3 linked regions of the Homo sapiens genome follow. The protein of the gene in region 1 purifies or fractionates together with the protein of each later gene. This does not show direct contact. Each region holds a gene or a part of one and is shown in the gene's direction. Other genes may lie near its edges. The genes, in order: CD164L2, SLC19A1 and ARL5B.

What was found.
Region 2: the proteins of CD164L2 (region 1) and SLC19A1 purify together in Homo sapiens (affinity purification with mass spectrometry; 3 studies listed by BioGRID and IntAct, with this or other methods). This does not show direct contact.
Region 3: the proteins of CD164L2 (region 1) and ARL5B purify together in Homo sapiens (affinity purification with mass spectrometry; 2 studies listed by BioGRID and IntAct, with this or other methods). This does not show direct contact.

Annotation. Positions count from the first base shown.
Region 1 is NC_000001.11:27,381,366-27,385,108, reverse strand, and holds the start of CD164L2 (CD164 sialomucin-like 2 protein isoform 1 precursor), read left to right. Parts: upstream 1-1,775; 5' UTR 1,776-1,869; coding exon 1,870-1,957; intron 1,958-2,441; coding exon 2,442-2,609; intron 2,610-2,709; coding exon 2,710-2,781; intron 2,782-3,284; coding exon 3,285-3,329; intron 3,330-3,743.
Region 2 is NC_000021.9:45,540,927-45,544,669, reverse strand, and holds the start of SLC19A1 (reduced folate transporter), read left to right. Parts: upstream 1-2,229; 5' UTR 2,230-2,302; intron 2,303-2,343; exon of another isoform or gene 2,344-2,410; intron 2,411-2,823; exon of another isoform or gene 2,824-3,198; coding exon of another isoform or gene 3,199-3,215; intron 3,216-3,743. UniProt on the Homo sapiens protein: Antiporter that mediates the import of reduced folates or a subset of cyclic dinucleotides, driven by the export of organic anions.
Region 3 is NC_000010.11:18,657,585-18,661,327, forward strand, and holds the start of ARL5B (ADP-ribosylation factor-like protein 5B), read left to right. Parts: upstream 1-1,846; 5' UTR 1,847-2,053; coding exon 2,054-2,099; intron 2,100-2,142; exon of another isoform or gene 2,143-2,308; intron 2,309-3,743.

The DNA of each region.
Region 1 (3,743 bases):
TGTTCAATTCCCACTTATGAGTGAGAACATGCAGTGTTTGGTTTTCTGTCCTTGTGATAGTTTGCTGAGAATGATGATTTCCAGCTTCATCCGTGTCCCTGCAAAGGACATGAACTCATCCTTTTTTATGGCTGCATAGTATTCCGTGGTGTATATGTGCCACATTTTCTTTTTTTATATATATAATATATATATTTTATTATACTCTAAGTTCTAGAGTATATGTGCACAATGTGCAGGTTTGTTACATATGTATACATGTGCCATGTTGGTGTGCTGCACCCATTAACTCATCATTTACGTTAGGTATATCTCCTAATGCTATCCCTCCTCCCTCCCCCAGAACCCGAAGGGTCTCTTTTCCCCTGAGTGGGCAGTTTTGGGGGCCTCAGGGACACTCAGGTGGAGATGCCGTGGACCCATGGGAGGCACAGCAGAGGGAGCATGGCCTCCAGCATCATTCAATCCTAGCTTTACATCCTGGCCTGCTGCATTGAAACCCTGTGCCCCTGAGCAGCCTGCAAATGGGAAATGACAAAACTCATGCCTAGAGGGTAGCTGTGGACATTAGATGGGAAGTTGCATGTAAAAGCTCTCAAAATGTACATTCGGCTAGTAAGGGGTCAATAATTGCTAGCTATATATTGTCAGTTACAGGTGTGGCAGTTGTGAAGTCAGAACTGGCCTGGAGATGATTAAGAGATCTGTTGGCTCAAAAAAAATTTTTTTAATGGGTGCATAGTGGGTGTATATATTTATTGGGATACGTGACCTGTTGGCATTCATTCATTCATTCATTTAAAACAGGGTTTCACTCTGTTGCGCAGGCTGGAGTGCAATGCCATGATCACAGCTCACTACAGCCTCAAATCCCTGGGCTCAAGCAATCCTCCTGCCTCAGCTGTTGGGTTTCAAGTGGGGACTGATGGCAGTGGAATGTCCAGGATGACCCCAGGAGAGTGTGGAACAGGGCTTGGGACTAACCTGGGCCACCATCGATTAAGAGAGGGTTAGGAGAAGCAGATGGGGGAAGGAGGGGAGAGGAGGGGAGGAGGAAGAGGAAGGAGAGGAAGTGCCCCCTAAGGAGCCTGAGGAGAACCAAAAGAGGCTGGTGCCAGGGCAGGAGTGGTAGCCGTGGGGAAGGCTGCGGAGAGGCCCAGTTGGCCTAGTAATGGCGTCACCCCTGACCTGGCCAGAGGGTGTGGTAGGCCAGAGGCAGACACAGCGGATGAGGGGCAGAAGGGAGGCGGGTGGAGGGGTGCAGTGAATGGAGAGGGAGCACCGAAGCTAAGCTTGGGCAGCCAGAGGGCAGGGGCCAGCTAGGGCCCGGCCCAGCGGTCATGGGGCCTGGGTGGAGGGTGTACAAAGCGGGGCCTGCACCGAGCCCTGAAGGCAGGGAAGTGACCTCGTCTCGAATCCAGATTTTTGCCACTGCCTCTCTCCGTGACCTCGAACGAGTCACTCATCTTGTCTGAGCCTCAGTTTCCTCACCTGTGAAGTAAGGATCAAAGCAGTCGGTACTTTCCAGAATTTTCAAGAAGCTGCCCTTGGAGGCACATAGTAACCACGCCAGCCACCAGTCCTGGACCCCACCTGCTTTAGTCCAAGCCCCGCCCCAGACCCCCGAACTCACCTGGCCGCGCACACTAGCCACGCCCCTAACTGGCCCCGCCTTCACCTGGCTCCGCCCCGACCGACGAGCCCCGCCCCACCTGCCGCTCCCACTGGCCACGCCCCCACCTGGCCACGCCCCGGTTGCCCAGGTCTCGCTCCGCACACGCTCAGCCGAGCCCAGTCTGGGAGGGACGCGCCCGGCAGCTGTCCACCGATCCCGGCCACCGCCCCCGGCCACCCCCACCCCGCGAGCCCATGGAGGCTCCGGGACCCCGCGCCTTGCGGACTGCGCTCTGTGGCGGCTGTTGCTGCCTCCTCCTATGTGCCCAGCTGGCTGTGGCTGGTAACTCGCGGCAGGGTCTGGCTAGGGGCTCGACGGGGACGGATGGAGCTTGCACCTCAGCCAGCCGTCTCCCCAGGAGCAGCCTGGGCTTGAGGGGAGGGGGCTTTCCGGCCAAGTGCAGGCCTCCAGGGGTGGGAGAGGGGGCTCCAGCTCTGTGTGGAGCCCTGTGTGTAAATATAGGCCCCAGGTGTGGGGGCCTAGGGAGCTTCAGGTGGTCTGGGGGAGGTGGCTCCAACTGAATCTGGGAACCCCGGGTGTATGCAAAGGGAGGGGCTCTGGGTGAATGTGGGGAGGCTCTAGGTGTGTGTAGACCTCTGCTGTGGAAGCTCCAGGTGTGCGCTGGGGCTTGGGGATCCAGGGGTGAGTGTGAGAGCCCAGATGTGTGCAGAGGGGCGAGGGCCACCGGAGTGTTGGGTGGGAGGGTGGGCGGGTGCCACAGCTTGGCTTCGAGGAATTCTCCCTTCCCACTCCACCGCACTACCAGGTAAAGGAGCTCGAGGCTTTGGGAGGGGAGCCCTGATCCGCCTGAATATCTGGCCGGCGGTCCAAGGGGCCTGCAAACAGCTGGAGGTCTGTGAGCACTGCGTGGAGGGAGACGGAGCGCGCAATCTCTCCAGCTGCGTGTGGGAGCAGTGCCGGCCAGAGGAGCCAGGTATGGAGCTGAGCCCTCCCCAGATTGAGTGCCCCCAGCTCTGAACCCCAAGGCCCTGGCCCCTCTCCCCAAACCTCCCCCCTGCACCTTCTCTCACCAGGACACTGTGTGGCCCAATCTGAGGTGGTCAAGGAAGGTTGCTCCATCTACAACCGCTCAGAGGCATGTCCAGGTAAGGGGGTTCTTGCACCTAAGCCAAGTTGCATGGGTCTCCCCAGCCATAGCCTGCCCCCCAGGAGGAAACAGCCTCTCTCAGGCGGTGGATTTTGCTCACCCATACCTGGGCCCGGTATCAGTTCTGCCTTTAGCTCACTGAGAAGTCCCCTCCTCTCTCTGCCTATTTCCTCATCTGAAAATTAGTACAGGTGTGTGGAGGGGATGGGAGTGTTAGCTCTTCTTCTAGTTTAAGGCATAGCAAGGACTTTGGAAGTTCAGAGGGAATGAGAGGGAGTGCTTCCTGGAGGAGGTGGCATCAGTAATGAGCCTGGAAGGTAGAGATGGAGAGAGAGCACATCTGGTGGAGGGAACTGTGTGGGGCTTGCAAGTATGTTGGATGTCTAGAGTAGGGACAGGGCTGCATCTGAATCGGAAGTTTAGCGGTGAGTGGGGGCTGGGGTCTTGATGGGAGTCAGGGGGTGGGAAGGCTGCTTTGCTATGGATCACCTGTCTCCTCAGCTGCTCACCACCACCCCACCTATGAACCGAAGACAGTCACAACAGGTGAGTACTCCCTGGAGACGGGGCAGTGGGAGGAGCAGAGGTGCAGGGGAAGACAGCTCTGGGCTCAGGCACTGACATGCTCTGTGACCTCGGCCCTGCGCCTTCTCCCTCGGAGCCTGTCTCCGCATCTGTGAAATGGGTTGGATGATGCCTTTCTCATAGAGTTGCTCTGCAGGTTTTATGAGAAGCTGTACAGTGCCCACTTCAGTGTCTGACTCACTGAAGGCAATCAAGAAATGACAGTTCCCATCCCTCCTCCCCATTGCCAGTTCTGGGAACTCAAGGTCACCCCTCGGGACTTGTCCTTGGAGGTGAGGGTGTGTGGCTCGAGTTGCTCAGGAGACATCCTCAGTGCCTGCCTACTGCACCCTCCAGGCCCAGAGAGGGTCACAAGGCGGGTTCCTGGCGGAGTAG
Region 2 (3,743 bases), on another chromosome or scaffold:
CTGCTGGGCCCCTGCTGATCCCTCCAACCCAGGGCTTCTCCCAGGGACCAGCTCTCCCTGCCATCCCTGACGCTCAGGCACTTAACTATTTGACAAACCGATAATGAAACACGCAAGGACGGGGACCGCTGGAGGCTCGTGAGGGCCCAAGCACAGGATCCATTCCCAGATGCCAGTGTCACTCCCAAGTCACCTGCGTTTGTAAATCTCTATTTTGGGTGGAGCCCTCTGGAAGCCCACGCCCCACTGTCTGTGGCCACTCCTCGCAGTCCTCAATGGAGGTTTCTGTAAGTTCTTCACGAGTCTCCTGGCTCTTCCCTCAGAGCAGCTGCCTCTAGATTACAACTGCCAAGTGCTGTTGGTGGCAGAAGCCCTACCTCCCCACTCCGAAGCAGCTCCTGCAGGAAACCTGGGCCTTGTGTGGCTGGGGAACTCCCAGGACTCCTGCCACGCAGGGGGACCCGAGGGCAGCTTGGGCAGGCCCCTCGCGGCCGGGGGCGGATTCGCTCGGCTACACCTGACCGGAGAGACAGGTGAGGGACTGGTCTTTGTGGGTCCTGCGGGGTCCCCTTGGGGCTGTGGCTCCCTGCCTTGCTGTCTCCAGGCGGGAAGGGGGTGGGAGCCATCCTTCTGTGGGAAGGGGTCTAGGAGCCCCGCTGCTGTTCATCCCCACTTCCCCTCGGCTTCCTGGCCTGTCCTGCGTGTAAAGGGAGCAGGCTGCCCTGGCGAGCTGGCCCCATGGCTGGCTCCTCTCTGCCTGGAGGGAAGGAAGGGCCCCTCCTCCTCCGCGTTGCCCCTCCTGTCTTCCAGCAGGGCCAGGTTCTGCCCACCCGTGGAGAAGGCCAGTACAGGGGAGAGAGCCAGGGCTCCCACAAAGCAGGGGGTCCCTCCAGGTGAGGCGCTCCATCCTGTAGTGTTCCCTTAAATTCTGCAAGCTACCCCAGATCCCCCATTTCCAGCCAACAAATCCTTTTTAAGTTCCTTTGAGATTTGTTCGTGTGGCTTGCTACACTCAGGACTCTGGAAAGAAGGCCCAGGCCAGAGCTTTGGGCAGGCGGCCATTTAGGGCAAGGGCCCTGTGTTGGCTTCCTGGTGGGGTTGCCCTGCTGGTGGGCGGGAGACCAAGAGCACCCCCGCAACACCAGGAGGCAGGTCGCGGATTGTGCTGTCTACACTCCGGAAGGGGTACATTCCAGGGGCTGCTGCCCCAGACTCACCCCTCGCCTGGGACCCGCACTCTTGAGCTGTGGGTACCACGGTGGCCGTCCCCTTCTGTTCTGTGCAGTGGACTTCCTGGCTCCTCCTTAGCCTTGGGGCCCCCACAGCCCTCGGCTTGGCTTCCCTCCCCATAGCCAGGCCCTGGGTAACTCCAGGGGAAAGTGACCCTGAGGCCCCCCACTTCTCCCCGTGTCCTGCACAGGCCTTGGGCTTTCGGCGGTGCTGTCTGCCGCAGCCCCACGCCTTCCTGGGAGAGTGGCCCAGGCCCCCCTTCCTGAGTGTGACTGCGCTGCCGTCTGCGAGGCCTGCGCGGGTCTCCCCCGGGCTGTCCCTGCTGGGATGGGGACTGGTGGCCCCGGGCCACGTCCTGGATCCGGCTTGCTCCTTGGTACAAGCCCGTACGGGTCACGGTCAGGCAGGAGGGCGGGCGGCGGGGTCCCGGGGGCGCCGAGTTCGGGGCCGTGCGGTCCCCAAGAGCAGGCTGTGCGTGTCCCTGTTGGAGCCCCACGAAGGCGGCCCAGGGCCACCCCTGAGGGCGCGTGGGCCCGACCCGCGTCCCGGATCCAGCTTGCGGCCAGGAATGCAGGTGTTCCAGGGTGCCAAAAGGAAAACGCACAAGGCCTCGTCGAGGAGGGGGGGTCAGGAGGGGACCGGGGGTGGGAAGAACGCGGGGGAGAGGGATGGCAGGGTGCCCGCCCGAGGGACCGACACCTCCGCGAGTGGCACCCCAGGATGCTGACGCCGGCGGGGGTGGGGGCCCGAGGGGCGGTCGGGGTCAGGGGGCGGCCCCAGGGGTAGGGCCGCAGCACGAGGGGCCGCGTGACCCCGGCGGTGACCGGGTGGGGAGAGGCCGGCGCCGGGGCTGGGAGACGGCCGTGGGTGGGAGGGTGCCCCGTGGGGACGCTCCTGCCGCAGCGCCCGGCCACGCGCGAGGCCCCGCCCTCAGGACGCGTTCGGCGGGACGGACCCGCCCACCCCGCAGCCGCGCGCCCGCCGCGCCGCCTTGTGGGCGCTGTAGTCCCGGAGTCCGCGTGCGCGGGGCCGGGTCCGGGAGCCCCAGGGCAGCCGCCCCGCCGAGTCGCAGGTACCGGTGGGGAACGGGGCCACGGGGCCGCGTGTCGGGGGCTGCGGGGTGTCTCGGGGCCCTGGGGTGAGTGCGGGGCGCGGGCCGAGGTTTGCAGGGCCCTGTGAGGTGAGTGTGGGGGCTGGCGCTGGGGTCCGCGGGGCCCTGGGGAGGGTGCGGGGCGTGGGCCGGGGTCTGCGGTCTGCAGCCTGGGGTCCGCGGGGCCCTGGGGAGGGTGCGGGGCGTGGGCCGGGGTCTGCGGTCTGCAGCCTGGGGTCTGGGGGGCCCTGGGGAGGGTGCGGGGCGTGGCCGGGGTCTGCGGTCTGCAGCCTGGGGTCTGGGGGGCCCTGGGGAGGGTGCGGGGCGTGGGCCGGGGTCTCCGCGGGGGTCGCGGTGGCCCGGGCGCCTGGCAGAACCGTTGCTGTGCAGCGGGTTTCCCGCCGCTCGCTTTCCGCCGCAGCCTGCGAATGGGGTGGGGAGTCCCGGCCCCCAGCCTGCCCTCCGCGTCATCCTGGGGCGCCAAGTCCCACCCCCGGGTCTGGAGGAAAGCGTGGATCCGGCGTTCGCGCCCAGGCACGTGTTGCTTCGGGACGGGCCAGCCGGTGGGTGAACCCTGCCAGCCACGCGTGGGGCGGGCCCCTGGCACATCTCCAGACCATTGTCTCCTGTGCCAGAAGCTTTGTAGGTGCAACTTCCCCTTGGAGCAGCTGTGGGTGCGGATCCAGCGGAGCAATCCCGAGGCGTCTCAGAGAGAGCCTGGACAGCCGCTGGAGCCTTTCCCGAGTGGGTCCTTCCAACACCGCTACAGCAGGAAAGCCATCCCCCTAGGGTCCTGTCCATCGGAAACTCCTGTCCTGGGGAGTCTGGCCTGCCTGGCCTCAGGACACAGGCCAACTAAGCTGGCCCCGAAATCCAGAATGCATCCAGAGGGAAGGTGGGATAAAGTCCTTGGAGGCGCCTGTTGGCCGCCCTGTAAAGAGGTGGCCTCCCCCTACGGAGACCCGAGGATCCCCGCACAGCCCAGATTCAATCAGCAGAGCCGAGGTGCCTCTGGCCCAGTGCACCTGCCTGCCCTGTCCAGGCCTGGGAGCCAGGCTGCATCTCACTGGCCGCCTTTGCCTGGGTGCCACCTGTGCACTGCTTGTTGCAATTGCTAATTGCTTTCTTTCCGAAGGGGCTTTGGTGGATTTTTATAATTCCAGATAGTACAGTTATCTCTGCTGGACACAGATGAGAAAGAGTGCTTCTCGGGTGTTTGGGCCTGCAGCAGTGATAGCCGGAGGGTCTAATTATGCTGTTAGGAACCCTGAACTTGGTCATCTGAACAGGGGTGGGAGGGTGTGCAATGCTTTCTTCTTCTTCTTTTTAAACTAGCAGGCGTTCTAAAAAACATAACGAACATTCTTGGTTAGCCTTCCAGAGTAGGAGCTGGTTTAAACACGGAATGATAGGTGGCGTTTGC
Region 3 (3,743 bases), on another chromosome or scaffold:
GCTTCAAATCTCTGCATTTTCTTTATTTTATTTTTATTTTTATTTTTTTAGACGGAGTCTCACTCTGTCGCCAGGCTGAAGTGCCCTGGTGTGATCTCTGCTCCCTGCAACCTCTGCCTCCCAGGTTCAAGCAATTCTCCTGCCTCAGCCTCCTGAGTAGCTAGGATTACAGGCGCGTGCCACCACACCCGGCTAATTTTTGTATTTTTAGTAGAGACAGGGTTTCACCATGTTGGCCAGGATGGTCTCCATCTCTTGACTTCGTGATCCACCCGCCTCAGCCTCCCAAAGTGCTGGGATTACAAGCATGAGCCCCAGCGCCCAGCCAAATGTCTGCATCTTCATACAAAAATGCTTTGTTCTTTTCAGAAATGGTTTCTTAGAAATCCGAAAGCCAGAAAAAAAAAAAAAAAGCAGAATGTGGTTTACATCCATGTCTAACAATTGAAGAAGCTGTTACGGAATCTAAAGTTTGTTTTGTGATAATGAAGCTAGGACTAAAAATGTCCTTTTAAGCCATTACTTACACAAACACAAAATTATTCACATTTATGGTCCAACTGATAGTCATGAAAGTTAAGTTTGCATAGGGTCAGTACATTCTTTTTCCTCTACATAGGAGGTTGAAACTTGCCTTTAATGTTGTAACGTTGGAGCATATTATCCTGCATCTAAGTCTTAAAGGGTCTTTAAACCATAGCACTGGGAGGACGTAAGTCATACATTCTCCTTGTACAGGTTAACTCAAGAGTTTGGCATGTTAAAAGGCCACGTTGCCAAGGTTAAAATCCAACCATCTGACTGAAGTCAGAGTCTAAAAAAATTTTAAGCTTGCTCCTCCGTCAACTGGTTTCAAGGACATTCAGTTTCGTTTCATGCCAGGCTGTGAAGCTTTTCTTTTCAATGCTAGAACCTAACCATGGAAAGTGGAATTGAAAACAATTACACAGCGAATTGGCTTATGCGTGGACTTCGATCTGGGATCCACGAACATACCTAATGCTTGGCAAAATGGAGAGGGGTGCTATGTGTTATTATTATGTGTTATTATTAATCACATAACTGAACTCTGTGGCTCCAGGCCTTCCATGGCTCGTCTCCCAATCAATTCTTTTCAGAACTAAGAATCACGACAGGGGCCGGGCGCGGTGGCTGAGCCTGCAATCCCACCACTTTGGGAAGTCGAGGCAGGAAGATCGCTTGAGCCCAGGAAATTGAGTCCCCCTGGGCAACACAGCCCGACCTCGTCTGCAATCGATCAATCAATCAATGAGTACATAAATGCATAAGCCAATGAATGAATACGTGAATGAATAGATTAATAAATGAATGAAGAAGAATCACGGCAGAACTCCTAACCCCTAGCACGCCTGCCTAGGGGAACAGGAATAAGTCAGGAAAGAAACACTCTTCACTTCTGTGAGTTTTCTAAGAGCAGCAAACGGCGGCTGCTCACTTAGAGAACCTATGGTCTTTCCTGGTTTTAGAGGTCAGGGAAGCAGCTGCTAGCAGCAGAGACTCAAATCAAAGGGGAGTCCCACAAACGTTTTGAAGGCTGACATCAGAAGGAGCACGCACCAAGGGAAATTTCCCACCCCCCCGCGATACCGCAAATTCCCAGCCGCTGGCCGTTTGGGACTCTCCTACCGGAAGTGAAACCGAAGAAAACGCCACGTCGAAGGCGTGGGTTGCCGTAAGTGCGCCGTCGTCACGCGCCTAGCTTCCGGCGATGGGTGGTCCTGGGATCCGGAGGGGAGGCGGGGTGGAGGCGGGGCTTGGGGCTGTGGAGAGGCTGTGGTAGGTAGGTGGGTACAGACCGAGGGGACTACGGGTCGGCGTTGGGCTCAGTGGGCTCGAAACAAAGGGCTGTCCGGTGGGGATTCGTCGCGGCGCCTTCTGAGTGGTCGGGTCGAGGCTTCTCGGCCTAGCAGTGCCCTCGCTGCGCGATCTCAGGCGGGTTCTCCTCGGCTCCGCGCAGCCCGCGCCGCGGTGGGGGACCCGGCGCAGCGGCACCTGCTGCCGAGGGACCCCGCGGCCCGCCCCGGTGCTCGTGATGGGGCTGATCTTCGCCAAACTGTGGAGCCTCTTCTGTAACCAAGGTGAGAAGAATGGAGCTGCGCGGCGGCTCGAATCCGAGGCAGAGGGTCCCGCCGCCGATGGGGACACCGGAGACAGGGGACAGAGCGTTCGGAGACGCGGAGGAGGAAGGGACTTAGGCCAGGGGGCGGGCAGAAACTCAGTGTTTTAGACCTGGAGGACGTACAGGAGAGACCTGACGTGTGGGAGAAATAGGGAGGCAGAAGAGAAGGTATTTGGCGTCCCAGAATCCAAACTGAGAATGTTTGGATATTGGCGAAGTAAAGCGGGATACAGCTAATGATGCCAGGAGGCGTATGGAGGGCCTTTCTCGTCTTTATTGAAGCGTGCTTGTGTCTATGTGTATCCCCAGGATAAGTGTCCGCCCAGAAACCTAGAACTTTTTTTTTTTTGAGTAATGTAGGTGCTTTGTTTTCCCGCCCTGCAGTTTGAGCCGTAAGCCAGTGCACTTTCACTCTGATTTCGCCTCCTTTCCTCTAGGACTTGGGAATGAGTTGTCCTATTCAGATGCACGAGTTTTCCAGCATCTTCATTGTAAACTTTTTTTTTTAAAGCATTTAGTTCAGAAACTAAATGCTTTTCGGTTTTGTGTAAGACGTTACGTGTCCGTAATTAGTCTGTAACAGGTAATGAGACACCTGGAAGTGGCAGGTCCAAAGGGCCGAGAAGTTGCAAAACCTGTTCTGAATCAGAATGAGATGTGATGTCTTCTGAAGAGAGAAAACACCCAGACCAAAAAAGGGGCCGACGATAAGTTAAAGTTTGAGGCGTCCTTTGAACAGAATGGTTTCTTAGTAATTGAAACCAGTTTTGAAAATCAACTCGTTTCATTTTACATTTAAGAGCCGGGCATCGTTAATAAGCCAGTTTTATTTCCTTTTATGTTGGTACCAATTTGTTACTGCTAATGTAGGTATCTAATCTTTTTCTGGATTTAAGAAGTTGTGGAGGTAATGGAATGGCTTTAGTTGACTTGTTCTGTAGATTGATAAGAACACTAAAGCAGTCTTTTTCAAGGTTATAAATATAGATACAGGCACACACATGTGTATATATATGTATATGCCTGTATCCAGTAACCACAGATAATATTACTTATCAAATGATTTCAAAGTGAGCAGAGCTTCACACTTTGTGGGTATTATCCATACATTTAAAATATTATTTTTATTTATTTATTTTTTGAGGCAGAGTCTTTCTCTGTCGCCCAGGCTTCAGTGCAGTGGCGCAATCTCAGCTCACTGCAACCTCTGCATCCTGGGTTCAAGCGATTCTTGTTCCTCAGCCTCCCGAGTAACTGGTATTTACAGGCACCCGCCACCACGCCCGGCCTATTTTTGTATCTTTAGTAGAGACAGGGTTTCGCCATGTTGGGCAGGCTGGTCTCGACCTTCTGACTTCAGGTGATCTACCCACCTCGGCCTCCCAAAGTGCTGGAATTACAGGTGTGAGCCACCGCGCCCAGCGGTAAAACAGCATTTTAAGACATGCTTAAAGGTATAAAGATTAATACAAAAATCACCAGTTTTCTCTTTCCCCTGAGCTGGAGAATCGAAACGTTACCGAAGTAGTTGGTTTTCCCTTTATATCCTTTCCCGTTTTCCTTTCTCCCTTTTCTGTTACATGGCTGCTGTCTTGTCTTTTTT